Linked DNA regions of Homo sapiens. The protein of the gene in region 2 interacts with the protein of the main gene of each other region in a pairwise test. Each region holds a gene or a part of one and is shown on either strand. Other genes may lie near its edges.

Region 1 (16,305 bases), on a different chromosome or scaffold from region 2:
TTTTCAGGGGGATACAAAGGCTCCCCGGTTTCAGGCTGGGGGTTGATTAGAGCACCTCGAAGCAACTGGGGATCTGCTTGGATGCACCAAGCACATTACGGCAGGTAGTGCCCATGCAGGTGCACACATGCTGGAGGAACACATCGTACATGCGAAGATGGGTCCTCCCATGCACACACCTGCTGGTAGCTTTCCCCTCCAGGCACACACATGTGCGTGGGGTGAGCAAATTCTCATGCACACACTTCCTACCCGGTACATGGAGAGGTCAATCCGCAGGGAGTTATGCAGCTGGTCCAGGAGTTTCACGAAGCGCTCTTTCTGAGGAGGAAGGGGAGGAGGGAGGATGGATGGAGGCAGGACATGGCCGCCATAGTGGCTGAGCGCCTACTGTACAGTAAGTATACCTCATCCACCACCCTCATAATGTCCATTTCCATTCTATGGCATTTTTTTTTTTGTTTTGAGACAGAGTCTTGCTCTGTTGCCCAGGCTGGAGTGTAGTGGCGCAGTCTCAGCTCACTGCAACCTCCGACTCCTAGGCTCAAGCAATTCTCCTGCCTCAGCCTCCCAAGTGGCTGGGACTACAGGCACAGGCCACCACACCCAGCTAATTTTCTTTTGGATTTTTAGAAGAGACGGGTTTTCACCGTGTTGGCCAGGCTGGTCTCGAACTCCTGGCCTCAAGTGATTCTCCAGCCTCGGCCTCCCAAAGTGCTGGGATTACAGGCATGAGCCACTGCGCCCGACCTCCATTCTATAGCATTCTACAGAGGAATAAATGGAGGCTCAGAGACGGGAAGTGACTGGTGGAAAGTCACACAGCAATCAGGTCTAGACTGGGGACCCAGAAGTCACATCAGATCTGACCGGCATAAAGTTGGGCTCTCCCTAATTCTCCAATCCCAGTCCCCAGGACTGACCCCAAAGTTGGAGGCGGCGAAGCGGTCGGAGGCAGACACGTTGGTGGAGGCGGTGGTGTGTGCGTAGTAGGCATTGATGTTGGCGAGCAGGGTGCTCATGACGGCAGGCACCCCTGGGCACATATACTTGGAGGAGAGGCAGGCAAAGTGGCTGGAGAGAGGGAGCAGGAGGCACTAGGCCAGGGGTCCAGCCAGGATGGACCAAGATCCCCCCTAGAATGCCTCCAAGATAGCATCTGTGAGTGGGTCTCTGTCACCTCCTAAACCATCCCCTGCCTGATTCTGTCCTTTGGGTCTCCGCATCTCCTCTCCCCTCCATCTTTATATCCATTTGAGTTGCTCTAATTCTGCTTCTTTTTTTCTTTCTTTCTTTTTTTTTTTTTTTTGAGATGGAGTCTCACTCTGTCACCCAGGCTGGAGTTTAGTGGCGCAATCTCGGCTCACTGCAACCCCTGCCCCCCAGGTTCAAGCAATTCTCCCACCCTAACTTCCCGAGTAGCTGGGATTACAGGCCCAAGCCACCACACCTGGATAACTTTTGTATTTTTAGTAGAGATGGGGTTTCACCATGTTGGCCAGGCTGGTCTTGTACTCCTGGACCTGGAGTGATCCGCCCACCTCAGCCTCCTAAAATGCTGGGATTACAGGCTTGAGCCACTGTGCCCAGCCTCTATCTCTGCTTCTAAGTCTTCCCTCTCTTCCATGTCACTCCAGGTGTCAATCACAGCGCTCTCCTGATCTCCAGGGGAATTACGGAACCCACCACCACCACGCCCACTTCCTCTCTGGGTCTTCCCCCTGAGAATCCCTCCCACCCCAGACCTGCCAGTGCCCACTTGGTGACCTCCCTCTTGTTTCCTGCACCCCAGCCTGCAGTCTCACGTCATGGCTTGGTAGATGGACTCGACGCCGTAGCGCATGGCAAACTCGTCCACAATCTCCTGGGCTGTCTCATCGTAGTAAACCTTCCAGGCATCGTCACCCTTGGCATCTGGGATCTTCACGACCCCATTGTTCTGCACGTCGGTCACGAAGTGGAACAGGTTCTGCCACCATGGGAGAGAAAGTGTCATGGAGAGTGCAAGGGGTCGCCGGGGGTCAGAGGTCCCAGGGTCTGGGGCAGCTTACATCATCCATCTGCCTGTTTATTCATTAATTCATTCATCTACTCTTTTATCCATCCACACACCCACCCATCTAACTACCCCAAATTTCACCCATCCACTCTTCCAACCTTTCAGTAATTCAACCACACATCCATCCATCCATCCATTCATCCATCCCATACATTGATCCGCAACTTAATCCACCTACCCAATCATTCATTCTTTCATACAACCAACCATCCATCCACCCATCAATTTATCCAACCATCCATTTTTCGTCTGTCCACCAGCCACTCACAACCATCCATCTAAATATTCAGAAATTATGAACCCAATTATCAATACTTGCAATAGTTCAACCACACATCCTTCCATTCATCCACCCACCCATTCATCCATTTGTCCATCTGCCTATACATCCATCCATCCATCCATCCATCTACCTATCTACCCATCTGACTATCAACAAATTCACCTATCTACTCAATCTTCCTTCTAATAACTCAACCACACTTCCATCCATCCCATCCAATACAACTTAATCTGCTCATCCAACATTTCATCTATCCACCCAGTCAATCATCTATCCAGCAATCTATCTATCCACTCATCAAGTTATCCATCCATCATTCATCTATACTCATCCATCATCTAACAATTACCCCCAAATTCACCCATCCATACATCTATACTTTCAATAGTTCAATCATATATCCATCCATCTGTCCATCCATCCATCATCCATCTAGCCACGAATCTACCCACCAACTCATCCATCTATCCATCCATGTACTCACCCATCTCTCCATCCATCCTTTTATCTACTCATCACTCATTCATCTGTTCAATCATTCATTCATTCACCAGCATTTATTCAACAAACTAGTTCCTGGGGATAAGAGTTCTTTCCAGGAAACCCAGGCAGCTGGAAGAGACATACCCAGACACAAACGGCCCAATCCTGAGTGGTTAGGGCTGGAATAGAAGGAAGAACCTGATGATGAGTAGTGAGAGTCAACCTGGAGGCCAAGGTGGGCTTCCCAGAGGAGGTGACCCTGAATCTGGACTTTGATGGATAGGGAGGAGTTTTCCAGGTAAAGGGAATGGCATGGCGGGCAGTCTCAGAGGGCCAGGAGAGTGTGGATGGTGTGGCCAGAAAGAGGAAGAGCTGGGCAGGCAGGAATGGTGAGTGGAAGTGGCATGGGAGGGGCCGAGCAATGACCCTCACCTCATGCAGACAGGTGTACTGGACATGGTACGGGGCCACCTTCTCCTCGCCTTTGATCTCCACACTGATGTGGAGCCGGATGGCACCCGACACGGCAGATTTGTCAGTTCGCTTGTCTGCAGGGCAGAAAAAGAAGACAGTGTCAGAACTTCCCACTATAGCAGTGGGCAATTTTTTTTTTTTTAAGAGGGAGTCTTGCTCTTGTCACCCAGGCTGGAGTGCAGTGGCACGATCTCAGCTCACTGCAACCTCCACCTCCTGGGTTCAAGCGATTCTCCTGTCTCAGCCTCCCAACTAGCTGGAATTACAGGTGCCTGCCACCGTGCCCAGCTAATTTTTATACTTTTAGTAGAGACGGGGTTTCACCATGTTGGCCAGGCTGGTCTCGAACTCCTTACCTCAGGTGATCCACCTACCTCAGCCTCCCAAAGTGCTGGAATTACAGGCGTGAGTCACCGCGCCCGGCCAGCCATGGGCAAATTTTTTTTTATTTTATTTTTTTTTGAGATCTGTGGTCCAGGTTAGAGTGCGGTGGCGCAATCTTGGCTCACTGCAATCTCCACCTCCTGAGTTCAAGCAATTGTCTTGCCTCAGCCTCCCGAGTAGCTGGGATTACAGGCATGTGCCATCACACCCACCTAATTTTTTATTTTTAGTAGAGACGAGGTTTCACCATGTTGGCCAGGCTGGTCTCGAACTCCTGACCTCAGGTGATCCGCCCGCCTCGGCCTCCCAAGGCAATTTTTAATAGATACACGATTCTGTAGTCCTCCCAGACTTCCGGAAACTAAGGCTTTGGTGTCTCTCTTCTGATTGGCTCCCTAGGCTTGAGTCTCCCTGTTTAGGCTAGAATTCCTTAAGCCCTGTCTCTTCCTTCAAACAAGGATCCCAGACCTTGCTTCTTCACTCAGATTAAGTTCCTGGCTATGTGCCTCCCTCCTTAGACTAGCAGCCCTAGGCCCCACTTCTTTCCCAGTCTGAGCTCCCAGGCCCTGCCTCCCCCATCAGATCATGCTCCCCGGAGACTACACATCTTAGACACTGTTCCTGGGTCTGTGCCTCTCTCCTCAGACTAGGACCCCCTGGTCTTGTCTCCCACCTCCCCCATCAGAATGGGATATCTAGATGTCCTCCAATCTAAGAGGTTTCCGGGCTCTGCTCACCTCTCTCAGGCTGGGTCCTTTCTACCCCCTCAGATTAGGCTCATACACCCTGCTTCCTCCATTAGATTGGACTCCCCAGATTCTACTCAACTTCCTTACACAGGGTTCTTTGATCTGTAGCAGCCATCTCAGATTAGGATTCCCAAACAATACCTCCCTCTTTAGACTGGATTCTTTTCTTGTGGTGGGGGGTCGGGGGGACACAGAGTCTTGCTCTATCGCCCAGGCTGGAGTGCAGTGGCATGATCATAGCTCACTGCAGCTTCAACCTCCCAGGTACAAATGATGCTTCCACCTCAGCCTCCCAAGTGGCTGGGACTACAGGCACGCATCACCACACCCAGCTATTTTTTTTTTTTTAATGGAGACAAAGGCCTTGTTATGTTGCCCAGGCTGGTCTCGAACTCCTGGGCTCAAGTGACCCTCCCAGCTCAGCCACCCAACCAATATGTTGGGATAACAGGTGGGAGCCACCATGCCCAGCCTGGATTCCATTTTTTTTTTCTTTTTCTTTTGTTTTTTTTTTTTTTTTTTGAGACGGAGTCTTCCTTTGTTGCCCAGGCTGGAGTGCAGGGGCTTGATCTCGCCATGTTGGACAATCTGGTCTCAAACTCCTGACCTCAAGTGATCTGCCTGCCTCAGCCGTCCCAAACTGTTGGGATTATAGGCGTGAGACACTGCACCCGGCCATATTTGTTTTTTGAGAAAGGGTCTCACTCTGTTCCCTGGGCTGGAGTGCAGCAGTGTGATCACAGCTCACTGCAGCCTTTACCTCTCAGGCTCAGGGGATCCTCCCACCTTAGCCTCCAGAGTAGGTGGGACCACAGGTGAGTGTCACCCTGCCTAGCTAATTTTTGTATCTTTTATAGAGATGGGGTTTCACTATGTTGCCCAGGCTGGTCTTGAACTCCTGGACTCAAGTGATTGGCCTGCCTCAGCCTCCCATAGTGATAGGATTAATTACAGATGTGAGCCACTGCCCGGCGCCCCCAGCCTGGATTCTTTTTTTTTTTTTTTTGAGTGGGAGTTTTGCTCTCGTTGCCTAGGCTGGAGTGCAGTGGCGCAGTCTCAGCTCACTGCAACCTCCGCTTCCTGGGTTCAAGCGATTCTCCTGCCTCAGCCTCCCAAGTAGCTGGGACTACAGGCACCCACCACCACGCCTGGCTAATTTTTGTATTTTTAGTGGAGACGGGGTTTCACCATGTTAGCCAGGCTGGTCTCGAACTCCTGACCTCATGTGATCTGCCTGCCTCAGCTTCCCAAAGTGCTGGGATTACAGGCGTGAGCCACCATACCTGGCCCCAGCCTGGATTCTTAAAGCTCAATCTTCTTTCTTAGATTTAGTTCCTAGGTCTCTGTCTCTCCCCTCAGACTAGGATTCCCAGTTCTTGCTTCTTGCCTCCCCCATTAGACTAGAACATGGAGATTCTGTCCCCACCCTCCCTCCTAAGCTGAACTAAGAGGTTCCTGGGCTCTGCTCACCCTCCTGGCCTGGGTGCTTCCTGCTCCCATCAAACTGGGCTCCTAGACCCTGCCTCCCCCATCAGATTATGCTCCTCGACCAAACTCCTCCTGAGAACACATCTCTCTGCTCTTCGTGGGCTCCATGCTCTGGCTGGATCCCTGGGACCCGTCCCCACCCGCTTCAGAACCCAGCTTCTCTCACCCAGGTTGTACCACACGTCCATCTCGCCGCTGAGCGTCCGCACCTCAATGATCGTCTGCCCCAGGAAATCGTCAGATTCCCTCTTGAACCTCTGTTTCACGCGGGATTTGATGTCGTCATCCTCGTCCCAGACGCGCACCTTGATGCGGTCGGAGGAATTGTGACATTCACTGTGGCGGGAGGAGGAGGCAGAGGCAGGGGTCAGGCAGCCAGTGTGAGTCCTGTCCTTGGAGCCCTCTTTTGGCTGCCCCAGCAGGATGCCCCACATGGGGCCAGGGACCCAGCCAGGCACTTACAAGTGGAAATTCTCCTCCCACACCGGGTTGAGGTTCCCATAGATGGTTTTTGTCCGTTTCTTGGTCTTCCCGACCTGGACGGTGACATAGGGGTCACTGGATCCTGTCTTGTCCTTTGCCTGCAAGCCCTGGGCGCAGACCACTGGAAGACACAGAGGGCATACACAGGTGTGCACTCAAGAAGCGAGGCATGCTGGGGACAGTCACTGCCACACGCTGCAGGCTGATAATTGGGACACCTGCAGCATGGCTGGAGAGCAATGGCAGGGCACGCTGGGCTTGCCAGAGAGGTTTTTTGTGTGTTTGTTTGTTTGTTTGTTTGTTTTTGAGACAGAGTTTTGCTCGTCACCCAGGCTGGAGTGCAACCTCCGCCTCCCGGGTTCAAGCAATTCTCCTGCCTCAGCCTCCCAAGTAGCTGGGATTACCCGCACGTGCCACCCCATCCGGCCAATCGTTTTGCATTTTTAGTAGAGATGGGGTTTCACCATGTTGGCCAGGTCGGTCTCGAATTCCTGACCTCAGGTGATCCGCCTGCCTCAGCCTCAGCCTCCCAAAGTGCTGGGAAGGAGTCCCCAAACCATGAAGGATGGGAAGGTGCCCCAGCTGCCTTGCGCATGGGTAGGACCTCTCTCAGGTGTGAACTCCCTGAGGTCAGACACTTACAAGAACCCATTGCCCCCCGAGATCTCCTGCTCGTTGGTGCCCCCTGCAGGGTTCCTTCCCTCCCTGACTTACCACCCCAGCTCCGTCCTGGGGTCACTTCCTGGATAACCCACATAACCTGAAATCCTCATCCTCAGGTCTGTTTATGGGGAAACCCACATGAGGCTGGGTGTGGAGAAAAGCCAGTATCCTCGCCCCTAAGTGGGGCCACACTGAGCTGCATGCTCGACATTGTCCCCAGTGGCCCCAGGATGGGCTGACCCCCTTGCCCACAGCATTGTCTGCTCAACGGCATCTCCTTCAGGACTCCTTCCATCCCTGTCTCAAGTCCTTGCCCCTCACCAGGACTTTCTGGGGTCACTTTCCAGATAAACCATGCACCCTCAATTCCTCTTCTTGGAGTCTCATTCTGGAGGGCACCATCCAAGACGCACCCAGATACAGTGCCATGAACAGGCGTTTGGAGGCACGCATGTCCCCCCATATGCGTGCACACACGGAGATGAGATGGAATGCACCCGACCGAGTGAGTGCGCGCTGCAAAGGAGAGGGACCAGGCCATGGGACAGGGCATGAGACAGGTCTCAGAGGGTGGAGAAGGAGGGGCCCTATGGCGGCCCACGCCCCCTCACCGGTGATGCTGATCTTGGCGGACCACTTGGACGTGCCGTCCAGCACGCTCTGCTTGACCGCCTTCATCTGCTGCGTGTGCGCCGTCTTGGTCACCGCGAAGATCTCCTGGATGAGCTCGAAGATCTCGGGCTTGTTGCGCTCCCGGATCTTCATGCGGTCCTTGAGCACCATGATGATGTTCTGTGTCCGGTCCTCCGCCCCGTGCTTGGAGCTCTTCTCCGCAGCCCCTGAGGACGCCCGAGGCCGGCGCTGACCCCAGCGCGCCCTGCATAGTGGCCCCTCACCAAGGCGAGAGCCCCGCCCCTACTCATCAACCGGGGGGACTCAGGTGTCACCCCCTGAAGCCGGTTTCCTACCTGCTTTCTGTACCCCCCACCCAGACCCTTCACCCTTCCACCTCCTCTCGGAGCCATGCTCCTCTGAGTCGCCATGTCCCTGCGTCCTGCCCTTCTCTGCCCCGCACCCCTTGGAGTCCCCACTGGTTTTTGGAGCCCCACCCCTCTAAGGCCTCTTCCCTAAGCCCCACCCCTCTGAGTCCCCGCCCCCTCTGCGTCCCACCCCTCTGAATCTCCGCCCCCTCTCTGAGTCCCACCCCTCTGAGTCCCGCTGCCTCTCTGAGCCCCACTCCTCTGAATCCCCTCCTCGTCTCTGATCTCCACCCCTGCGAGTCCCCTCCACATTCCTGAGCCCCTTCCATCTCTCAGACCCCTCCCTTTCTCTTGGTCCCACCTCCTCTGAGTCCCCTCCCCCTTCCAATCCCCCCCTCCACAGTCCTCTCGCAGTCTGAACCCCTTCCCTCTCTGAGCCCCTCTTCCTCTCAGAGCTACCCCTAGCTAACCCATTTTATCCAGGGGAGCTGCCTCTTCTCACTAAGCCTGTCCTTTGCACAACCTAGCTAGTCCCTGAGCCCTGCCCCACCCCTCTCTGACACCCTCACAGCTTCTTTCCCCACCCCTCGACCCCCTAGCCCTTCCACCAGGGAGTCCTGCGCCTTTAACCCCACCCCTCCCTTTCAGCGAGTCCCTCCCCTGCCTCACGACGCCCCGCCCCTTGCCCCGCCCCATGGTGCCCCACCCATCGCCTTGCCCTTCAGCCTTTCCCCGCCATGCAAGCCCCGGGGCTCCCCACGCCAACCCGTGGCCCTGCGCTCAGGCCCTGCGCTCACGCTGCAGGCAGTCGGCGTTGAGCAGGTCCTGGCACTTCTCGTGGCACTTGACACCGCACTCGGTGCAGCGCATGCCCTGCCTCGCGATGCCCCACAGCAGCCCCTCGCACTCGTAGCAGTAGGTGGGCGTGGTGGCCGTCCACACTTCGAAGTTGTGTGGCGTCGTGCACGAGATGGGGTAGATTAAGGCTTGCAGGGTCTTCTTGTAAACGTGGTTTTTCTGCAGGGAGGGATGGGGTGCGGTTTGGGGGCGCCTAACCTGGCGCTGTCCCTGTCCTGCCCCATTCCGCCCCATCACTGAGCGCGGTAAAGTCCCAGGCCCTCCCCTGCCTCCACGCTGTCGGAATCCACGCTGCCTTCTGCCAGTCTGTGTCACACACACACCCTTCCTCTTCCCGGGGACCCACAGAGGCTTGGACAATTCCAGAAGCTCCTAGCCCAGTCCATCCCTGACCCGGGGAAAAAGAGGTGCCCCACGCACCAGCTCCTCGTTGTTCAACGTGCTGGAGGCCAAGGCCGAGGTGATGCCCGCTTTCCTGGACTGGACCAGGGACTGGGGAGGTCACAGAAGAGGGAGTCGGGGGGGTTGACATCCATGAGATCACCACCAGGAGAGTTCACAGCCACGGATGGGGCCAGCAGCCACATTTTGGAGCCACAACCGCAAGTTGGAAACAGGTCACCGACAGCATCCGGGCCAGACCCAACAAAGAATTAGGAGGTGACAGAGGCTTTGAGTTAGAAGGGACCCTGGAAAGTGAGCAGCCCCGCACCCCTGACTCACAGCATCCAACACAGTGGGACATGGCAAGGTTCCCCCATAATCCATGAATTGGGGGCCTGTTAGAAGATCCCAGTGGGGGAGTTTGGGGAGAAGATCCCAAGAGGCCCATGTCGCCATCACTCACCATGGCCTGAAGTGTCCACGCAGCACATGGGGGTAGAAATCAGACTACATTAGTCTCAGAGAATGCCTAGCTGGCCCCCAACCCCAGGTTGACCATGGGCAGTTCCACAGGTTGTGCACTGCTTATAGCAGGCCTGCTCTGCTCAGGGAGTAAAGGGCGAGGGTGCTTACCAAGTCGCTCACGAGTGGGATAGGTTTCCTCTTGCGGATGTCTGGCATGCTGTCGATGATGATGAGACCGCCCCCTGGGCTGAAAGACACAGAGGGACACTGAGGGCCCAGATGTCCCTATTCCTCACATAGAGCCCTGGGGAGAACATTCAACCTCCCCCAGGTGTTAAGGGGTTGAATTGGGTCCCTCAAAAAAAAGATACGCTGATGCCCTAACCCCCACTACCTCAGAAGGTGACCTTACTTGGAAACGGGGTTGTCACAGATGTAATTAGTTAAGATAAGGTCATACTGGAGTAGGGTAGACACTTAATCTAATATGACTGGTGTCCTTAGAAGAAGAGATACATGGGGAGAAGGTGGCTCTGTGACAGCAGAGGCAGAAAGCGACGTATCTACAAACCAATACTCGGGGGCCAAGGAATTCAAGCAAACTAGAAGCTAGAAGAGGCAGGGGAGGAATTCTCTTCTACAGATTTCAGAGGGAGCATGGCTCTACCAATGCCTTGATTTCAGACTTCTGGCCTCCAGAACTGTGAGAGAATACATTGCTGTGGTTTTAAGCTACCCGTCTGTGGTACTTTGTGACAGCAGTCCTAAGAAATGGAGACACCCGGCCTCACCCTCCTCATCTGAAAAATGGGGAGATGATGTAATTGCCCACCTTGAATGAAAACGTGAATTAAGGCAAATCTAAATAATATACTAAAATATAAATGAGGCCAGGAGTGGTGGCTTACGCCTGTAATAATCCCAACACTTTGGGAGGCCGAGGCGGGCGGATCACCTGAGGTTAGGAGTTCGAGACCAGCCTGACCAACATGGTGAAACCCCGTCTCTACTAAAAATACAAAAATTAGCCAGGCATGGTAGTGCATGCCTGTAGTCCCAGCTACTCAGGAGGTTGAAGCAGGATAATTGCTTGAACCAGGAGGCAGAGGTTGCAGTGAGTCGAGATCACGCCACTGCAATCCAGCCTGGGTGACAGAGCGAGACTCTGTATCAAAAATAAAATAAAATATAGATGAAACCTTTCTTGGCTCATTGCAACCTCTGCCTCCCAGGTTTAAGCAATTCTCCTGCCTCAGCTCCCCAAGTAGCTGGGATTACAGGTGCCCACCACAACGCCTGGCTAATTTTTGTATTTTTAGTAGAAACAAGCTTTCACCATGTTGGCCAGGCTGGTCTCGAACTCCTGACCTCAGGCGATCCGCCCACCTTGGCCTCCCAAAGTGCTGAGATTACAGGCGTGAGCCACCATGCCCAGCCATCTTTCGAAACAAGATCTCACTCTGTCACCCAGGCTGGAGTGCAGTGGCACAATCACGGCTCACTGTAGCCTCCACCTCCTGGGCTACAGCAATCCTCCCACCTTAGCCTCCTGAGTAGCTGGGACCATAGGTGTACACCGCCACACCCAGCAAATTTTTTTTTTTTTTTTTTTTTTGAGATGGAGTCTCGCTCTGTCGCCCAGGCTGGAATGCAATGGTATGATCTTGGCTCACTGCAACCTCTGCCTCCTGGGTTCAAGCAATTCTCCTATCTCAGCCTCCCAAGTAGCTGGGATTACAGGTGCGCACCACGACACCTGGCTAATTTTCTGTATTTTTCGTAGATATGGGGTTTCACCATGTTGACCAGGCTGGTCTCAGACTCCTGACCTCAGGTGATCAACCGCCTAGGCCTCCCAAAGTGCTGGGATTACAGGCATGAGCCACTGCACCCGGCCCACACATAGCTAATTAAAAAAAAATTCTTTTGTAGAGATGGGGGTCTCGCTATGTTGCCCAGGCTGGTCTTGAACTCCTAGCCTCAAGTGATTCTCCTGCCTCAGCCTCCCAAATAGCTGGGATTACAAGCATGCACCACCACACCTGGCTAATTTTTTGTATATTTTAGTAGAGACGGGATTTTGCCATGTTGGCCAGGCTGGTCTTGAACTCCTGACGTCAGGCGATCCACCTGCTTCAGCCTCCCAAAGTGTTGGGATTACAGGCGTGAGCCACCAAGCCTGGCCCCGAAAAGGTTTTCACTGGCCAGTGAGATAGGTGCCTGCAGCCAATGACTCCAGACAAGCCCTGCAGGGCTATTCAACCTACAAAGCTTTCTGCAGGAGCCAACTGAGGCTTAGAGACTCCTAAACCACATCTTTTCTCGGCAGCCTCCCCTTGTCTGACAGGTTTCTCCCGAGAGCACATCCTTCATAAATCACGTGCACAGGAATCCGCATTTCAGGACCCGCATCCAAGGCTCTCTAGCTAGGGTACCTGCTCATTTATTTAGGAGTCCCAGCTGCTGTCTCCCTGCCTGTTTGCCAAGGACGTACAAGGAAGGTCACTATCGTGCTGCTATTTTAAAACCTGAGCATATTTTTAAAATATCTTGTGCATCCTCTAACCTGAAAATCCATAACATAAGAGGTTAGACATGACCACATTCTCCACTGAAGACTAAACAACTATCTTTAATTAAAGAGCCCACAACTGTAGCAATAATCAAAGAGATTTAAAAATAGAATCAACGCAAAAATTTTGCTCCAGGATTACAAATATATAGTGTACATTTCCCAATAGTGTCTAGTTCCTCATAGTGTCTGCTTTATCTTACATTTATTTATTTATTTATTTGTTTGTTTATTTTTGAGACAGTGTCCCGCTCTGTCTCCCAGGCTGGAGTGCAGTGGTGCAATCTCAGCTCACTACAACCTCTGCCTCTCGGGTTCAAGTAATTATCTTGCCTCAGCATCCCAAGTAGCTGGGATTACAGGCGCCTGCCAGCATGCCCAGCTAATTTTTGTGTTTTTAGTAGAGACAGGGTTTCACCATGTTGGCCAGGCTGGTTTCGAACTCCTGACCTCAAATGATCCTCCCGCCTCGGCCTCCCAAAGTGCTAGGATTACAGGCATGAGCCACCGCACCCCGCCCTGTCTTCAAAGATTACTGTCTTTTGTGTCTGCGTATGGCTGTGTGCCTTATGAAAGTGACGTATTTTGCCCAAGCTCAATCTGTCCCCTGTCTAAATGGAACCCCTCCTCCTCCTCTCTGGGCTGAGGCTCAGGCGCAAACCAGCCTTGGACTTGGGGTTCAAATCTTCCTCCCACCGCTCACAGTTTCATTACTTACCCGCCTTTGAACCATAGGGATTTAGACATCTCTCCTTCTCCCCGGGCCTGCAGGACAGACAGACAGATATGGTCAGTGTGGCTGTCCCTCCCCTCCCCAGAGCAGGCTCCACACCCACTTCTGACTCCCCTCTGGGCTGGGAGTCAGATGGCCTGGGTCCTAGTCCTGGCTGAGTGATTTTAGGAAGCTCCGTGGCTATCTCTGGGCCTTAGTTTGTCCATCTGTAAGATGGGCTGGGGGAGAAAGAAGCTCTTCTCTTTCAACCACCTCAATGGACCTCAGTCTCTTCATTGATTATTCCCTAAACCCCCTATAGTCTCACTTGTTCATCTGCTCTCTTGCCTCGGGCTCTTTCCAGGAGTTGTGACTTCAGCTTGTACCTCTTCCCACCTTCTGCAGCCAACCAGCCTCTATTTATCATTCGGGTCTCAGCATAGACGTGGGGTCCACAGCCCCTACCTTCCCTCCATCTTGTAACTAAAGGGTTAACATGGGGGGAGGGGTGGCCCTATGAGGAACACAGGCAGCACTCTTCTGTTCTGAAATATTGAGGGGGTGTTTGGTTTTTTTTTAAAGACAGGGTCTTGCTATATTGCCCAGACTGGTCTTGAACTCCTGGCCTCATGTGATCTTCCTGCTTCAGCCTCCTGAGTAGCTGGGACCACACACACAAGCCACCACACTCAGCTCCTGAAATAAATATATATATATATATTTTGTTTGTTTGTTTGTTTGAGACGGAGTTTCCCTTTTGTTGCCCAGGCTGGAGTGCAGTGGCGCAATCTCAGCTCACTGCAACCTCCACCTCCTGGGTTCAAGCGATTCTCCTGCCTCAGCCTTCCTAGTAGCTGGGATTACAGGTGCCCACCACCACACCCAATTAATTTTTTGTATTTTTAGTAGAGGTGGGGTTTCACTATGTTGGCCAGGCTGGTCTCGAACTCCTGACCTCAGGTGATCCACCCACCTCTGCCTCCCAAAGTGCTGGGATTACAGGCGTGAGCCACTGCATCCGGCTCTGAAATATTTTTTATTTTTTTCTTTTAGAGATGAGGTCTCACTACGTTGCCCAGGCTGGTCTCAAACTCCTGAGTGCAAGTGAGCCTCCCGCCTCGACCTCCCAAATTGCTGGGATTACAGGCATGAGCTCCTGAAATATTGTTGAAATAAATATTTTGGATATCACTTCTCTTTTTTTTTTTTTTTTTTTTTTTGAAATGGAGTCTCGCTCTGTCACCCAGGCTGGTGTGCAGTGGCGCGATCTCGGCTCACTGCCAGCTCCGCTTCCCGGGTTCACGCCATTCTCCTGCCTCAGCCTCCCGAGTAGCTGGGACTACAGGCGCCTGCAACCACAGCCGGCTAATTTTTTTGTACTTTCACTAGAGACGGGGTTTCACCATGTTAGCCAGGATGGTCTCGATCTCCTGACCTCGTGATCCACCCACCTCGGCCTCCCAAAGTGCTGGGATTACAGGCTTGAGCAACCACGCCCGGCCATCACTTCTCCTTAAGTGTCATCTCCTCCAGGGAGTTTTCCTGATTGCCTTGGATTAGTTTTATGCTTTTCCTATGAAACCCAGAGAGCCTTCCATGTGTCTTTTTCTTGTCATATTACTAGTTCCATAGTTTGTTTTTCTTGTATATCACATAGTTCCAATAGTAGCTGCTATTTTTTCAATTTAATTTCTTGACCTAGTGGAAGTTATCCAACAGCCTTTTCACTGTGTCCTCTTCCACCTGTCTCATTTAGAACCATATGTATGTACTGCTGAGTCAAAAAATAGATTTCTATTTTAAAACTGTTAAGAAATTTCGTTTGGTAATTTTGTGGCTCTGATATTTGATGGTCTAAACCTTTGGGAGTCTGTTTAGAATCTCCTCCTGCCAATCCCACTGCAGTTTGGAGGGTAACTCTGAAGAGCAACACAGCTGTCCCCAGCCCAGGGTGAGCTGAATGAAGGAATAAACGAATGGCCTCAACCCTGCTGCCCATCTAAACAGTCAGCTTGCCCCTGATGCTGATTGCTTCCCTTGATTCCTACTCCCCTACTGAGCCGGCCCCAGACCTTTCCCTAACCCTGACAATGACCTCCAATTTGGCCCTAAGCACTGACCCCTTTGCCTAACACCAATTCTAACCCTGACCTCTGATCTTTGATGGCTGAACTAACCCTGACCTTGATCCCTAACCATGACTTCAGCCCAGTTTCAGCCCTAGTTTTCTCTCCTCCCTCTAGATCTAGAAACCCCAGGCTGACATTGGGAAGGAGGCTGGGCTGGGGATGTGTGGGGCCAGACTTGGTGCATGGTTTGGGAGTTAGCATAGCCAGGCTGGTGTGGACGGGCCATGGGGATACCCTGGGCTGTGTGTGTATGTGGCTAAGGAAGGGTCAGAGTGGGTGGGGCATCGGTGACATTGGGTGAGGCCAGGCTGAATGAGGGTGGGGCCAGGGAAGGGCTCGAGTGGCTGGGGCATGGGCACAGTGTGGGCACTGCACTGGGCATGCCCAGGCTAGGCTTGGGTACGGGTGGGGTGTTGGGCGTGGCCAATATAGGTGTGGGTGTGGCCAAAACATGTGTGGGCCTGCCATTGGGCGTGGCCTGGCTAAGTGTGGCAGGGGCATGGCTGGGCGTGTCACTCACCTCCTGCAGCTGCATCCGCACCTTGTTGAAGGCACGCAGCCAGTTGGCCTTGGCCCTGGACATGGAGTCCTGCCCCTCCTGGCCTTCCTCATCCTCTCTCGGCCTGAAACTGAGGCAGGGAACGCTATGAGGCTCTGGGCTGGCTCTCCGTGACCCCTGAACTTCCCTTGACCCTCCAGCTGTGCAAGTGATGCATAGCTCCCCATGGTATCTCTGACCCCTCAGAGACATTAGGACCCACGTGAGTCCCCTGGCCCACCTCAGTGCCCCTCACCCCTTCCCACACACCCAATGCTTCTGTGACACTTCACTGTTCCTCGGCTTCCTTTTCACCAGCCCAGCCCCTCTGGCCCCCCATTTGCCCAGGATCTTGACCTCTCCGACCCCAGCAACCACTAAGATCACAAACTCTAAGTCTCCTTCACGGCCCCTTGAACCCTCTTTGACCTCCCTACTCTGCCCTGTCACCTCTGATCCCTTTAAGAAACCCAAGAGCCTGTGACAACTTCAGCCCCAGCAACTTCCCAGGTCCACGCTGACCCCATCATAGCCCTGCTGACCCTGTGACCTTGTGGCAGCCCCTCTGGCCCCTTGGCCCCGTCCTGTTACCTCTCCTCGT
Region 2 (16,305 bases):
CAATAGACAGAGAAAGAGAAAGAGAGAAACATCTACTTAGAAACAAATAAAACAAAGCACAGCATTTGACAGAGCCTAGGTTTTGAGGAGAATGAGAACAGTAATTTCAGGACTGGTTTTTAATCTGTTTCACAGGGGTTTATGGCTTAAAAACTGTTTTCTCTCGAGTAGAGTAGAGCTGTGGACATCTAAATGCCCTAATATTAACTGACTTTCCCTCCACAGATATCAACTAATCATTAATAAAGTTCCCTTGATCAAATATCTGTGATTAATATTTTGAAAACAAAAATGAAAATGGGAGGCGAGTCTATGATGGTGAATCTGGTTCTTAAAATAACCTCCCACTACAAAGAACAAGAAATGTCAGGAAGGGGCAACTGGGACAGTGTTGTTTCCACTGACAAAACTAAACTCTGGCTATGCTGATTTCTTGGCACTAGCCACATGTTTCATGTTACGTACTCCTAAAAGAAAGGGAGGCTGAACACATGCTCAGCACATGTACCTGAGGACACCATTCTGGCACCCTTGCTACCAAGTCTAAGTGGAAAATAATTTTCTGTAGGTTGGTAAGGAAAGCGTGTTGACCCATTTTCATGACCTGACCGGCTTGGTTAACAACTGGGGGCAGGAGGTGGCTGTTAATTTTCATATAAAGGTGATTGTTGTTATGGGATTAGTATGGCTGTACCGAGTGACAGCCCTGGGAAAGGCCAGTTTGAATTAGTAAGAGAGACCAGTTATTTGTTCAGGTGTACAGAATAACTCAAAGATCTTAGGCTTTCAAGAATAAATAAGAATGACTTGCACTTAGTGTTTTATTTTTTTAGACAGGGTCTCGCTCTGTCACCCTGGCTGGAGCACAGTAGCACAATCTTGGCTCACTGCAACCTCCGCCTCCTGGGTTCAAGTGATTCTCACACCTCAGCCTCCCTAGTGGGACTAGGGAGGACTCCCTATAGTCCTAGCTGGGACTATAGGTGCATGCCACCATGCCTGGCTAATTTTTGTACTTTTAGTAGAGGCAGGGTTTCACCATGTTGGCCAGGCTGGTCTCAAACTCCTGACCTCAAGTGATCCGCCTGCCTCGGCCCCCTAAAGTATTGGGATTACAGGGGTAAGCCACCGCGCGCCCAGCTCGAATGACTTGCATTTAGTGTTCTAATTAGCTGTGTCAAACACTTCTAAAATTTTTGAAAGTGCTTCTCCTCCTATTTAGCTTATTTCCCTTGTGGTTTTAAAATTTACTTCAGTAACTTGCAAGCATTTTAGCATTAGGGGACAGTGGTCGTTAAGAGGGAAAGGTTTAACGTCAGATGAACATGAGCTCAAATCCTTTCTGTTCAAACCTGTGGCACATTGGGCACTTTTCATATTTTAATCTCAGTTTCCTTCCCATAAAATGGGGAAAATAACAGCCCTAACTGTATTGGGTAATGGATAGTAAGTGCTCTATATAATGCCTGACACACTCAGAGCTAAAAAAAAAAAAAAAAAATGCCTATAACAATTATATTATATAATTATTCCTATTTTTCTCAGCCATACACAAATAGCATAGTCCACATATAAAATTTCTTGAATTCCTACTTAGCATTTAGTCAGTCAGTCAGTAGTATAGTGCCTGATCAAGAGTCAATAAATGAATAAGGCTGAATAAAACAGTTTTTATAGCAACTGGTATTTCTATAATGTATGATGACTACATAAAACTGCAAATATATAACATATCATAAACTATCATATAATACTGTTTATGTAATTTAAAATGTTATAAATCAGTTAATTTTTCTTCCTCTTTATTTGAACTTATCTCTATTTTTCTTTGTATTATCAAAAAATTACTCAGAAATACACATGTAATTGCATTTTATGGTTTGGGGAGGTAAGTTCATCTCATGTTTCTTGATAGGATATTTTGATATCCTGCCCCTTATTTGACCATTCTGAAAGTACAAAAGAAAAAACATGACTGGTCAACAGCTTTATAATGTGAAATATTGAAGCCTTTTTATACTGGATTTCACTCTTAGAAAGGCTGGAAATAAGCCACCATAACATGTTAAAAAAGTAAGCAATGATGATACAATATTTAAAAAGAATTAATTAGTAGTGACTTGGCAAAACGAAAGTGACAAGGCTGAATTGTATGTTAAGAAGTCACTCAGTGTAGCTGCCACAGTGCTTGAGGCCTAGAGATTAAATCAGGCCATGTAAGCAAATGGCAATTTAAATAAAACAGACCAGAATGACCTCAATATGAGTTCTCTAGCTCAGCCTGAACTAGAATGCACAGCTCTTAACACTTCAAGAGACAACACTGAACAGATGGCTAGTTACAGAGTCTGATGGCAGGAGAGCTATCATATAGGCTGACTAGGGCTGCGGAGAAGGGTGATGAAGACTCCAGTGGTCAGTGCTAATTCATGGTTTTGGAGGTTTGCAATAACAAGGACAGTTATGACTGGGAAGCTCCAATCACACGTTCGCTAGCTTGTAACAATTAACTGCTGTGATTTGTTTTGCCAATGTAATGCAGACATGCCCAAGTTTAACATTAATTCTCATGCACTGATTACAACAAGATGTATACCCTGGATTAGGCACAAGATCTGTGTGGTTTGCTATATAAAAGTTGAAATATTTATTTTGAATTTAGAAAAGCATAAAACAGCAATCTTTTCTGCCTTATGTTAGCTTGATGACTAACTCGACTGTTAAAGGAAAAATATATCTCCATGTTAGAAATCAGCTAATAAATAATAACATTGTATTTGTAGACAATATTGTGTTCTTAACTGTAATATGTTCTAGTCCAACACTATTTGATAATATTGCCAATATGAGAAATAGTGATATTAAAGCCTAGGATTTCAAGTAGTTCTCAAAATATTTTCCATGTATAAAAAGTTATTTATATATCAGTTGGAGCAAATCGTTATATATAACTCAAGAACCTTGAAAATGTCTCTTATGCAAAATCTATTAAAAGTGTAGACTTTTACTTAAAACACCTGTGAGACCATTCACATTTTTTTCCTTCTGCTGCAAAGAAATGGTCATAATTCCACTAAATATAGATACTCGCACACCCTCAACATATAATACTATATACTCACAGGTGCAGCTCAAATTATGACTTTCTAGCTGAGCACAGATTTAGACTTTCTTTCCTTTTTTAGCATTGCCTTGACTTTGTGACTTTAAAAAAAAATGCTAAGCGTATTTTGCTTTTTTCCTATCACAACAGCTCTTGTTCTGTGGGAACAGGAGGGCTGCAGGGAGCCTGGGGAGAGGAGTGGGGAGGGGCGCGCATGACAGCAGCCAGGGCCTCTGGTGGCAGCTTCTATTATTCTTCCCTGCACTCTATTTGAAGCCTGGAGAAAGAGAAACTGCTGGGCTGTTCACTGGGCTGTGTGGCAGTGGGAAAGGAGAACAATTAACAGGAAAAACTACTGGCTACCATGTCAGCTCGCCCAATTGCTCGAGTCGGGGACAGGAGCCTGCCCTGCAGCAGCATGCCTTCAAGGATGGAGGCTGATAGTTCAGGGTCTTTCGCCCACTATGTCCATGTCTGGCTGGCAGCCATAGAGGCCCAGCCTCAGCACACTGTGAAAATGGGGGGATTTTGAGACTCATACTGCAGTTGAAAGAATCGCTGTCATATTATCTGCATTGGCATTGCTAGCATGGTGAAATTTCAGCCTGCCTTTACATTGTTTGAAAACTTCAATTTAGTCCTTTTCTGATTGTGTCTGAACACTGCTGCACTGCATGCCGTTGCTTCTGGGCTTGTTTCTGCCCTTACCAATGGCTGATGTCATGTGGGTGCTTTAAACTGCTCTGACACAATACAATGCGGGATCTGATTGACTGACCTCTCTGTGAGTAACAATGACTGTCTGGCAATGATGAGCAGAGGGTGGTGGGGACATTTCAGGATCTCCAGGGAGGAGATACCTTTGCAACTTTAGAAAGCTACCCAGGTGATGATGATACATCCCCTCCGGGGATGCACTCTTCCACCTCTCCTTGACTGTCATTTAAGTTGAAAACTACTCATCATCTGTCTTATATGTGATTTACCTTATTAAACCATAACTGATCAGAACCTTTAGCTTAGCCCTGATCTTTTACACAGCTGACGGGTTATATAAAATTGACTTCTGGCTGAGTCTTTCATCCCACGTAGAACTCAGTGGGTAGCAGAACGATTCCGGGTTGGGCTCAGACTGCTACATCCACATGGTGTTGTGCCTAACCCTGGGGCCCAGGTTGGACTCCCCAACACACAGAAACCTCAACATATTGGCACAGACAATAAATGAGGCTCTGAAAGTAGGACCACTATGGCAGCAGCCAGCTAACACTGTTTCGGACTCAAGCACGGAACACGAAGGGGAAGCGTGTTCTATGCCGAGGTACACACCTCTTCCTCTGAACTGTCACTCGGGTCATTGTCTAGGGAGGCGCTCAAGGAGGCCGCCTTGGGCTCCAGGTAGCAGAGGCACAGAGCCAGAGGGAAGGAGAGAGTGAGAGCGTATGGCACTGAGAAGGAGGCAGACAGCAGAAAGAAAAAGATGAAGAGGAAACAGGGCACAAGGGACGGTGAGCGGATCGGGAGGTAATGCTGCAAGCTCTGGGGCAGGAGGTTGGTTTCAGAAAGGTTGGGGAAAGAGAGGTATCCATCATCATCTAGGAGGGAGGGGAATGACTCAGGGAGCTGCAAGGAGAAGGAGAACAGGGTGGTCCCCTTGCCAGTTTGCTGTCTGTAGCTAAAAGCCACATCTTGATCCCCTAGGTAAGGCCTCCCTGGGCCATCAGAGTCCAAGGCGGGCTCTCCAGGCAGGTGCTCAGCTCTGGACGGCTCATAACCTGGCAGTTTGCAGTCATTCTCCTTACACCTCCTACGGAGCTCTGTGGGAGATGTGGGGGCACAATGGGTGGATGGGGGTGACAAGGGACATGAGTCAGTGCCAAGCCCAGGTGACTGATGTGAAAGAGACAGAAAGAGACAGAAAGCAGCAAACAGAGGTGCAAAAGGACAAAAAGAAAACTGCAATTAGTTAATTTTCTTATGGGTATCAATATAAAATTGTAAAACAAAAATTTTAGCACTAGGGTTGCTCATGAATGTTAAAGTATTCAAGCTGCATGCCACTGTTGCCACGAACGGCTACATTTCTCCCATGAGACTATCACATACAGGTGGAATTCTTTAAAAACTCAGAACAGAAGGTATTTGTGGGCAATCCCAAAGTCTACACATTTCACATGGTCAAAAAATTTCCCTTTAGACTAACAACTCTAGAAAGTTTCAGGTTTTGGGGAGCAAACATAAGTAAATCTGATAACTTAACATGAAGACTTTCAATAGCCTTCTCCTGATTTCCAGGTAGCAGAGCTGTTACTATAGTTCAGCTAGATTAAAAATGAAGATGAAATCCAATCCAGATTTTGATTAAAAAAAAAAAACCAATCTCTAGCATTAGTCCTTTCCCTGGTTATTCAATTACATCCAAAACAAGGAGTTTACATTCCAAATCAAGAAGTTTCTGGCCCCACTCCTATCTGATAAGTAGTTACAATCAGGGATTCGACAGTTAGCATTTCTGAATATCTCACTCCTCAGAAAAGAACTGAAGTTCCCTTGAAAGCTCTATTTTGGCTCCTTTATTTAGGATATTAGTGGAACTTCAACTGAAGTGATTTCAACAAGCTAACTAGCAAAAACAATGTGTTTTCTTGTAACATGCTTTGCCAGTATTTACTTTCTATTATTTATGATGCATAATAACAGAAAGATATAATTTCCCAGCCTTCTGATTTTTCTTAGCAGATAAAGGGCATATTTAGATCTTTGGTTTGAGTCCTTAATATAATGATAAAAGCAGGGTTTTCCACAGGTGCTCCCCTGGTGAGCTCAAGCTTTTATGGGGCAAGTGAATCTGCTTCTCCTCCTCTCTGGGTCCTGGAAGTCTCCACGACCAGGGCCAGTTTCCTCTGCAGGTGGCGGAGGGGTTGCTGGACAAGAAGGGGAGGAAGGAAAGCACGCAAGCCCCAAGCAGGACCTGGGCAGGTACAGCAGCTGCTGCAGGCCGGGAAATCCAAGCCTGAAAGTAATTAGACTTCTGCTGATGTCTGTGTCACTGCGTGTGTGTATGTGTGTGTTTTGCCCAGTGGCCTGACAGCATGGAAATTACCCAGCCTGCCTTGTGTGGTTATGCAATCCTGACTTGGGGAGAAGTGGTAAATATAGCGACAGAAAGAAAATGCACAAATAAAGTTACATCTGAGGCATGAGGGAAAGAAAATGCACAAATAAAATCGTAGCTCTTCGGCCTTTGAAGGGTCTCTTTTTACGATGAGAGAAGTATGTCTTTTCCCACACATTTGCATTTGACATTAAAGACGGCACTTTAAACAGGAACCTGCACAAATCTCATTCAACTAAGAATAATGTAGCTGCTACACATTAACTTCTGCATGAAGACAACTGTCCTCCAGCATGGAGGTGAGGCAGCCCCATGACCCAGGGGATCCCAGCCTGGGAAACGTGCCTCCTTCCCAGGCAACCTAGGGGACCAGCCTTTCAAGAACTATTTTCAGTAATACACTTTCATTTTGGTTGAAAAGTAAGTACCCTCTGCGTTACTTTTTGAAGAAGGAGAAGGATAAAATTAAGGTTTAACCTTCCATGCTGATTATTAAAGTCATTTCTAGAAGACAGCTTTGCACTGGGGAAACCAAGCCAGCCCACACCTATATGAGCACCAGATTTCAGCTACAGACTTCCTGAAGACATTCTGCCCAGAGTGCTGGCTTCTCAGAGACTCAGGCTATGAGGCTGGTAGTGTCCTTTGTCTTTTCCCACATCACAAATGGCACCAAGTGAGGACAGCTTAGTGCTACGTTTTATATAAACAAACTGGTGGTCTTTTAAAAGCAAATAAAGTGAAAATGTCCGGCCTTATCTTGGGAGCAAAACTAAAAATCACTTACATTGATGTGTCACTTCTTCAATACTTATACATCCATGGGAATCTTATGTTGGCATGGCGAGTTTATAAAATGTTAGAATAACTAAGAAGAAGAACCACATATTTGTTTTTTGGGTGGATTATATTCTTTTCTGTCCCCTTTAAAGCCTTCCTTGACTGAACAGACAGGAAGAGTGTAAAAACAAAATTTAGAACAAAGCACATTTTAACAGCAAAAGTTATCGAAATATCCCTGCCATTATTTCCTACTCTCTGCTTAATTTTGTGTTTGCCAAATAAATAATCTTATCCCAAAAAATAAAAGATGATGGATTGGGCCATTTGTAATATTTTAGCATAACTACAAAAATTATTTGTCTATGTTAAGATGTCACTGCTAAATTCTCATCAAAAGGAACACTTTCCATAGAATTCGGGGTAGTGATTCTCCATCTCTATTTGAAGAGCCCATGTACAAAAGATCACTCGTGAATCAAATTTACTCAAATTTTAGGATAACCCATGGGTTATTATGAGCATTTTCATTCTGCTATTTCCTCTTACTCTATGCTCTGTACAGGCCAGGAGCCACTCTGTTTTTCCCTTATTATTAGGTATAAGCCTCCTGAAGGGTTTTTTGACTTTTAAATTATTTTTCTGAAAAGTTGCTTTGTAGTGCTGGATCACCAGAAAAAAACATAGTGTTTAAAAATGGTGTTAAAAAAGATATTTAATTTGGGGTGAAACAATGTTACAAAGTTTAATGAATTCAACACTGAAAGAAGAAGCTGCTGCCAAATTCCCTTTTTATCTCCTGTTGCAACTTTCTGCCTTAAGATCCCTTTTCAAAACATGGCCAGTCACTACTCTGCTGATTAGGCGTAAGTATAAATATGTAGGCTGTGGTCACTCCATGTACTTACAGTCAGAAGAATGGCAATATGATAATTGTATATCTAGAAAAATATGCTGTACTTGGGTAGGAGAATGGGGCCAGAAACAAAGAAAACAGCTTTAGTGACAGTTCTGAAATGTGAGCCCAAACAGAAAAGTGTAATACGCCACCAAAAGTATTTTTAAGATACACATACAGGACAGCTATTGAAAGTCTTACATAGCACACAAGTTATTAAAATAAAAATTTTCAAAGAGCTATGAATGAACCTTTCAGAGAAAAAATGTTGAAACAGCAATCATAATTTAAAAATTGACATATGAATGTGACCAGTGCTGACATATGATTTATCCTAAATCTGAGCACATTCCTGGTTTACAGCCTCAGCATCATTTAGTCATTCTTAAAAGCTGGAGCAAGCTCTTGCAGGCAGTCTGGGAGCTATACCTTTCCCTCGTGCCGGATGGCCGAGATGGGCGTGACTTCTTCCCCCTTCCTCCGTTTGTCCTCTTCCTCGTCCCGCTCCTCCTCAGCCTTCTTCTCCGGAGTCACAGTGGTGATCAAGTTGGTCTGAGAGATGCCTTTTGTTGTGGCGTACTGGCCAGTACCAACCTCTGCAGCAGACATAGAATCCTTCATGTATATTTCATGGTTTTCATTCACTGATGCTAAAAGCAAATACAATTAAAGAAATAAAATCCAAAATAGTTAGGTCAGAAGACACATGAACAATACCAACTATATCTTTACTGAAAAAAAAAATACCAACACAAAATACCAGGTTTGCCTTGAAAAAACAAATCAGTGCTGCAGGGACCTTCATGAGAGCATGACCTTCCTGTATTTCCTATATGAGTGCTTTAAAATTCGTGAAATGCTCATGTCTTGGAATTTCATCTATCCTCAGACTCTCTGCTGAGGATGTGTGTAAGTGTGGAGGTGAGTGGAGGGTCATGAGGCGAGGCTGCCGCTGGGCATATTATCACCATTGGCTGGCACTGGCACCAGTCTCGTAGTGGCCAATTCCACACCTAACAGCAGTCTTTGCAGTACACAATTGCTCTAATACACTTGGCTCTTTGGAAGTGCCATTCACCAAGGAGCACTGAATTGGTTTTCATATTATTATTATTAATGTTGAAAAGTCTATCACTCTTACAGTATAAAAGCTCCATGGGTAATAACAAATATTAACCATCTTGGTAGAGATTATAAAAATCAGATGGCAATTCCATTCACCTAAAGTACAGAAATGTTTTCATTTCTACTGCATTTTAAACAGACTACCATAATATGCATATACATTTACTCATCTCTAATATTTTGGGAAAACACAATGAATGTTGCTAAATGAAATTCATGCAAATGCAAAACATGCAAACTCAAGAGAATAAGACAGAGCCTTTCATCCCAGCTAAAACGTCTTAGTGAAAAGATGCTTAATTAAGTTTTAAAAGTTGGTACTCATTATTTTAGGTTTTAGATATAAAATTTATTAAAACTTATAAATGTTGCTTTTCAAATACACAGTAACTAATCACAGACAAAATATCTACATTATTATTTTAGGAATTTAAAAACGTAAATAAAAGAAAGGATTCTGAAATGAAATCCTCTCTGAAATGCTTTCGATAGCTAAACTATGTCACTAAAATATCTTCACTAAGACATTTTATATCTCTTTACACCGTTGAAAAAGCTCATATGAGACACAACTTCCTAATGGACCAGTTAGGCCATTCTCTGTGAGATGCAACCTTGCAAAAAAGCAGTTTATGTTGCAACATGCAGCTGTGCCACCCAGCTCAACAGCAGCAGAAAACATACTAGAGCTGGCAGGACCGCAAGGAGTGAGAGACAACACATACTAACATCACTTTTGGGCAGGGAGAAAGAGACAGCATGACATTAGTACACTGATTTCACAATTGTCTTCTGTCTTCTCAGCAGTCATTATCACACTAAAGGTCATAAGGAAAACAACATTCACAACAAATGTGTTCCCTGGGGTGCACGTCACTGAACAAAGTGGATGATATTCAGGAAAAAAAAAGTGCGATTCTACAAAGTTCCTCAAATACTGATAACATATAGAAATAGGTAATAGAGACACTCTAAAGGAGAAACAAGAGTCAATAGGATAAACCAGAAAGAAAAGCTTCAATGTTAACATCGATATTTCAATATCTTAATTCAGCTCGAAACAGTCCTGGTAATTATTTTATTCAAAAGGGCTGGCTCTAAGTTCGGTATTCTGGAAACTCTTAGAAGACACACAATGGCAATTAACTTCCTAGGCTAGCTCACAAAAGCCTGTAAGAATAATTATGAATATAAAATGTGGTATATATACATCATGGAATACTACTCAGTCATAAAAATGAATGAAATCATGTATTTTGAAGTGACTTGGATGGAGCTGAAGGTCATTATTCTACATGAAGTAACTGAGGAATGAAAAGCCAAATACCATACGTTCTCATGTATAAGTGGGAGCTAAGCTATGGGTATGCAAAGGCACAGAGTAATATAATGGACACTGGAGACTCAGAAGGCAGACAGTGGCGGGGGTGGTGGTGACGGATAAAAAACTACATATTGGGTACAATGTGCACTACTCAGGTGACAGGTGCACTAAAATCTCAGACTTCACTACTATACAATTCAGCCATGTGGCCAAAAACCGACTGCTTGTATCTCAAAAGCTACTGAAATTTTAAAAAAATGTGAAAAAAGAGTAATTATCAATATGATTATTGAGATAATTACCTATGTAACAAGAGTGCTTTCACATATATCTTGCTTTTCACAACAGCCCCGTCAAAGGCGGCCTTATTCCTATTATACAGATGACTAAAACAGACCTGGAGAGCTGAAATCATTTGTCAACCACCGCAGAGACAGAGGGCAGCAGAGCCTGGACTTCAATCTGGATTTACCCATGCCACAAGAGTACAGTTTCCACCTCGCTAGTAACATACATAATATAGCACTAATAATGCCATTTTGATTTCTTCTATAAACTGTTCATAAAGTATTCCATTAGAAAAAGACAGTTGTTTTTAGTTGGGAGATTCAAGGAGCACCTCTCCCCATCAATCACCCGGCTAGTGAAATGGGGAAGGCAGAGCTGAGACTCTCAGGGGAACAGTGGCAAAAAAGGTAGGAAAGGAGATGGTACCATGCACTTGTAACTTTTGTTTATTTTTATTTATGTTTTTCCTTATTATTTAAACCATACTTGCATACCAGAAACTCCTAATTCTTTTTATTTGCACAGGATAAGATCTTCTATTAAAAACAACAAATCTCCAGGTGCTCCAAATGAGAAGACAGAGACCTAGACATGATTCAGTTCCAGAGTATTGTTACAGCGGGCACGCCTTGCAGCAGAAAGTGTACCTCCATATTACTTCAGAGAGCAATCAAGAAACTGTTCGATAAAACAAAACCCTACTAAAAATTCACTGTTGTGTTATCCCCTAAAAAGGTAGTTTGAATGATCATCTCTCCATTTGACTAATTTAACTTGGCAGTACAGAACCCCTACCTAGCACTGTTCTCCCAGTCCATCTGGGGTAGTAATTAGCACAACTAGGAGAATTTAACTTACAACCCTGTGCTCTGTTATTTGAATGTCATCCTTTCTACCAGCTATTATCAACTGACTGATAAAGGTCACACTTTATTCATAAAGATTTTTTAGAAACAGAAATAAATTTAACTTATAGATTTATAAAACAAATGGTCTTAAACCTACCAATCCTTTAAGACCTGTTGGCAAGAGAATCAAATCACAGAGTATGTGACTACTATATTTAGAATGAGAGCATCTTTCTCCAAATTCAGGGTGTCAGCTTATGAAAGCTATTTTCTTCATTCCCGAAGTGCCATTCTTTTATGTAATTTTACATAAACCTGCAGATGTTAGACTGACAAAGGGACTTTCATTTCGCTGGGGGAGACTTAAAAATGTGCCATTCAGTCAATAAGCAACAACTGCTTTTCAACATACAATATCCAGGAATATCTATACTTACTGAAAGCTCATGACAGTTTCACATTCTTTTTGGGGTAGGTACTAGGTTATTAAGGGCCAGTAAGCGATGCCTACCTCCATCCAAGCTGCGAGACATGGTATAACGTTTGCTGGATGAGCGTTCAAAGTAAGGTGCTGGGCGATCTATCAACGCACTGGCTCTTCTCGTTTGCGCTTGTGTCCTGCCACTATAACGAAACTTGGAACCCAAGGTTAGGAATTTCTTGGGAGGTGCTTCTGGTAACAGTAGTCTAAAGAGAATAAAGAAAAACAGCAGAAAGACTATTAAGTCCAATATTGAGAGTGCTTTTTAAACTTTTTACTCTGAGAGGTCATGTGTTTTGCATGCTAAACATTTAACGCACAACTTGCAGTTAAATAAATCTGATTTCATAAAAGAATGCATATAGTATATATCAACTAGGGATATTGTAGAGAGGATATATGCAAATGAGGGTTGTACTGAACTAGATGAATTTTTAACATTCCACGCAAAGTGGACAGTCTATGGTTCTATAAGCCCAAACAGCTACTAAATAGTTTGATATTAGTGAAGAAGAAGAGTGACAATTTGGTGTTGGGTGCCTAATTTGATGGGTCTCGTACCATGCATAGGTAGGTAAAGGGATTCAGGGTATTGAGAAATCACTGAAATAGTAAGGAATTGAAATAGTAAGGAATGGATTGGATATTTGAAGTGGACACCCTAAAAATAATGTAAACACACTAAAGATACTAAAGAAGGGGGGTTTGGGACATGTAAGTACATGACAAATTAGGGAAAATCCTTCAAATTTAGTCTTTTTCTAGTTCTCTTAGGATTTCTTATCAAGAAATATGGTGACAATGAACTTGAAGGGATAGAAAGAATAAAATTCCATATTTTTTATTGACAATCTTTTTCAGTATAAGTGATTATAATTATTCCTTAGGGAAAAAACAAAATAATCTCTTCCTACCTGAAAAATGTATGATGCTCAACACATACTTTCCATAAACGCTTGGCAGCTCGATGGTTTGGCAGCTTAAACCCAATGGTGCTTTCAAATTGTTCAAACTAAATAAAAAAAAATACATTGAAGAGTAAAGTTTAAAATTATAAATAACAGAAGCCCTGTAAATAAATTACAGAATCATGATGCCACCAGAATTTTAAAAATTTACTTACTAGATCAATTGCTATATGCATAATTCATGCTATACAGATTCATTTGTTAATTTCAAAAATGTGTCTTTAAAATGCTGCAGGTATAAATAGCCACTTTATGCATACAGTAAAATGTCTTCTGAATAAGTGTGTATCTTATGATACAACTGAAAACCAAACACGAAAAGGGGTTTTTTTGATTTCTTCCAGAAATCAATTTGCCCTGATATCACTTTTAAACTTTTATTTTCATGGTTTCTCAATGACACAATGACTTCAACTGCAAGGTACAGAAATGAACAAAATGTTTACAAATATAGTCTACAGCATTCTTAGAAATGAGACTTTTCTCCTAATACCTGGGCAGGAAATATGTGTATTTCTTAGGTAGTTGATAACTTGGTGTCAGAGATTGCTGATTTTATTTGTGTGTTCCGCTATGGATTATCGTGTTAAATGCTAACGTCTCTCTATATCATACGTAAGATCAGAGATTGGGGGAACATATTTTCATATTTTTCAGCATGTACACTTCAGATGATGCCTTATCAGCCATTTGATTTTTCGAGGTGAAATACTCATCTCATTTCCTGCATAATATACTTTATTACTGCAGATGCACAGGTTTTCACATTCTGAAGAAGGTACACATCAGACCACCAGAGGGCAATCATCTTAAACAGTAAAGGCTTCCCCAAAGAGCACACAATGGGTACTACTGCTATAATCAATAGCAAAAATCATTTATATGGCAAAGAACCGAGGTGAGGGGTCATATGCATGGCATGTGAGATACAATCATGTTTGACCTCTATTTCTTGTTTGTTGAGGATGATTAGGGGAAGTGGGAAACACATCACAAATGCTTCAACCGCAATTGCCTTTCCCAACTTCTTATTCACTCTGGATGTTCATGTGCAGTGGTGTTTGTAAAAATCACTACTGTCTAAGGGACTCAGCCAAGACAGACATAGTGTGGCTTGTGACTAAATCATCATCCATTTATTCATCCTGCAACTAATATGCACATATTACGCCAATGCCAGGGGTTATATGGAAGAGTCAGCTTGCACTCTGCTGCAAGAAGCTGGGAAGAGTCTCTGCCAACCTCTGTAGGCAAGGATGATGCAGGCTCCTAGACTACCTGAATAGGTATTAATAGTTTATTAATATCTATTTCTCTGTGTTTTATATCAATTTCTTTCAACTTCTTCAGAGTCTGTGTGTCTCCAATTTCTTCTCACTCACTTTTCTCAGGCTGTAAATAGGATTGTAAAAGCAGAGAGAAGAGGAGTGAAAAACCAGCTCTCTCTGAGCCTGCTTATGCCAGCACCACAACCCCATCTCACTCCTCACTGCTAAACTTTAGGAAGCAGAAGCCACGACCTGCTGCCTCTGCTACCTACTCCTGACCTCAACACACCTGGCAGGTGCTCCTGTTGCCCTTCTGAACTCTGAAATGTCATCATGGGGCCTGACTGTTAAGTTCAACACACTTTTGTTAGTCCACATCCTGCGTGCCCTTTCTGTAACATATGATACTGCTAGCTAACCACTTTCCTCTGAAACTCATCTCCTGGTCATCCATCAGCCTGTTTCTTCTTTTATTTCTCTGGCTGTCATTTCTTCAGCTCCTTGGCCCTTTCTCAAATAGTGGTATTATCCAGAGTTCTAGTTTTGGGCCTTTTCTTTCTCTAACTTGCCTTGCTCTTTGAGTAATTTATTCCATGTCTAAGGCCTTGAATAAAATATATACAGTTGATAACTCTGTTCAACTCCTTCCTATGCAAGAGTTACTCCCTGAAAATCTGTTTCAAAGGGATTTCAGTTGTTTTTCTGAAATTTTCCCCCTTTTCCCTCCTGCCGAATGTCATCTCCATTGGCTTCAATCATGCAAACTGAAAACCTTTGATTATCCTGGACTTTTCCCTCTTTTAATTACTTCCTCTATCCTGTCTCTACGACCTGCTGCTTCTGCCTCTGAAACCTCTCTCTTGCATTTGTTCCCTCCCGTCTATTCCCACAGCCTCTGCCCTAGTTTAGGTCTTATCACATCATGTTTCTAAGTCGTTGAATTTCATTAAGAAATGTATCATTCCAAAATATTCACCTAGTTGTGTCACATCCTGATTTAAAACCTCCCATGACTTACTAGTTGTCCACTGATTCATTTCTCTAGCTCTCCCCTCTGGCATCTCACAATACTATGCTCACTCCATGTCTACAGAATATCATCTCATTTGCATCATGCTGTTACAATCAAAGTATATGAGTCCGTTTTTCTGCTAAATAGAAAATCCCTTAACAAGGAACAAGGTCATATTTGTCTTTAGATTTCTAATGTCTGACAATAAATAGGTGCTCACTTAACAAATGTTCAATGAAGTCAAATGACTATCTATTGGCTATAAGTTTAATATACAATCTTTAGGAAATATTTTTAAAACACTATAATTTTAGTTATTTACATGAAAAGCTTACAGATTATTTCAGTTATCATAGATAGGTATGATGTTATGTTCATACTAAACATCATTACATGCTTTATGTTTCAATTTTTTTGTTATTTTTGAGACAGGGTCTTTGCTCTGTCACCCAGGCTGGGGTACAGTGGTGTGATCAAACTCACTGCAGCCTTAAATCCTTGGGCCCAGGTGATTCTCCCACCCTTGGCCTCCCAAAGTTCTGGGATTACAGGCATGAGACACCATGCCCAGCCGATATTCTGATTTTTTAAATTGCATTTTCCACCAAGAAACTCCAGTAGAGAAGTAGATTTTGAAGATAAGAGATAATTCTATATCATATCAGAAAATGTTCAGAGATATAAGTATGCTAGAATCTTTGAGCTTTGACTGCCTCTGTTATACTAACCATACCAATTAGAAATTTGAGGTATTTATTAACTATCTCTTAAGTAAATAAGAGTAGATATGTGTTACTATTATGTACAAACCACTAAGGAAGATATAAACGTAAGTTGATCATGGAGGCTGTTGTCCAAGGAGTAAGGACTAGTTAACAATTCTGATTGTCTCATTAGCTTCTCTGACTTAAAACAAACAAACAAACAAACAAACATATATTGAGCTATAGAACATTGATATAATTCACACTAATTGTCCTTTGTTCTAATATTCCTTGTACCTTGAAGTACAGGACCTCTAAACTGTTCACTTTAAAGTACAACCAGATTTGCAGGACAAACAGAAAGAGCATGGAGAAATAACAACAGCATGTG

The links.
Region 1: the proteins of EPB41L3 (region 2) and UNC13A interact in a two-hybrid assay, tested with the Homo sapiens proteins (one study listed by BioGRID and IntAct).

What each region holds. Positions count from the first base shown.
Region 1 is NC_000019.10:17,639,588-17,655,892, forward strand, and holds part of UNC13A (protein unc-13 homolog A), read right to left. Parts: coding exon 16,296-16,305; intron 15,796-16,295; coding exon 15,687-15,795; intron 13,091-15,686; coding exon 13,044-13,090; intron 10,001-13,043; coding exon 9,922-10,000; intron 9,758-9,921; coding exon 9,752-9,757; intron 9,397-9,751; coding exon 9,325-9,396; intron 9,064-9,324; coding exon 8,844-9,063; intron 7,906-8,843; coding exon 7,678-7,905; intron 6,525-7,677; coding exon 6,383-6,524; intron 6,257-6,382; coding exon 6,087-6,256; intron 3,374-6,086; coding exon 3,258-3,373; intron 1,970-3,257; coding exon 1,806-1,969; intron 1,075-1,805; coding exon 924-1,074; intron 322-923; coding exon 253-321; intron 1-252. UniProt on the Homo sapiens protein: Plays a role in vesicle maturation during exocytosis as a target of the diacylglycerol second messenger pathway.
Region 2 is NC_000018.10:5,411,386-5,427,690, forward strand, and holds part of EPB41L3 (band 4.1-like protein 3), read right to left. Parts: intron 12,975-16,305; coding exon 12,877-12,974; intron 12,169-12,876; coding exon 11,993-12,168; intron 8,547-11,992; coding exon of another isoform or gene 8,493-8,546; coding exon 8,326-8,492; intron 4,994-8,325; coding exon 4,433-4,993; intron 1-4,432. UniProt on the Homo sapiens protein: Tumor suppressor that inhibits cell proliferation and promotes apoptosis. Modulates the activity of protein arginine N-methyltransferases, including PRMT3 and PRMT5.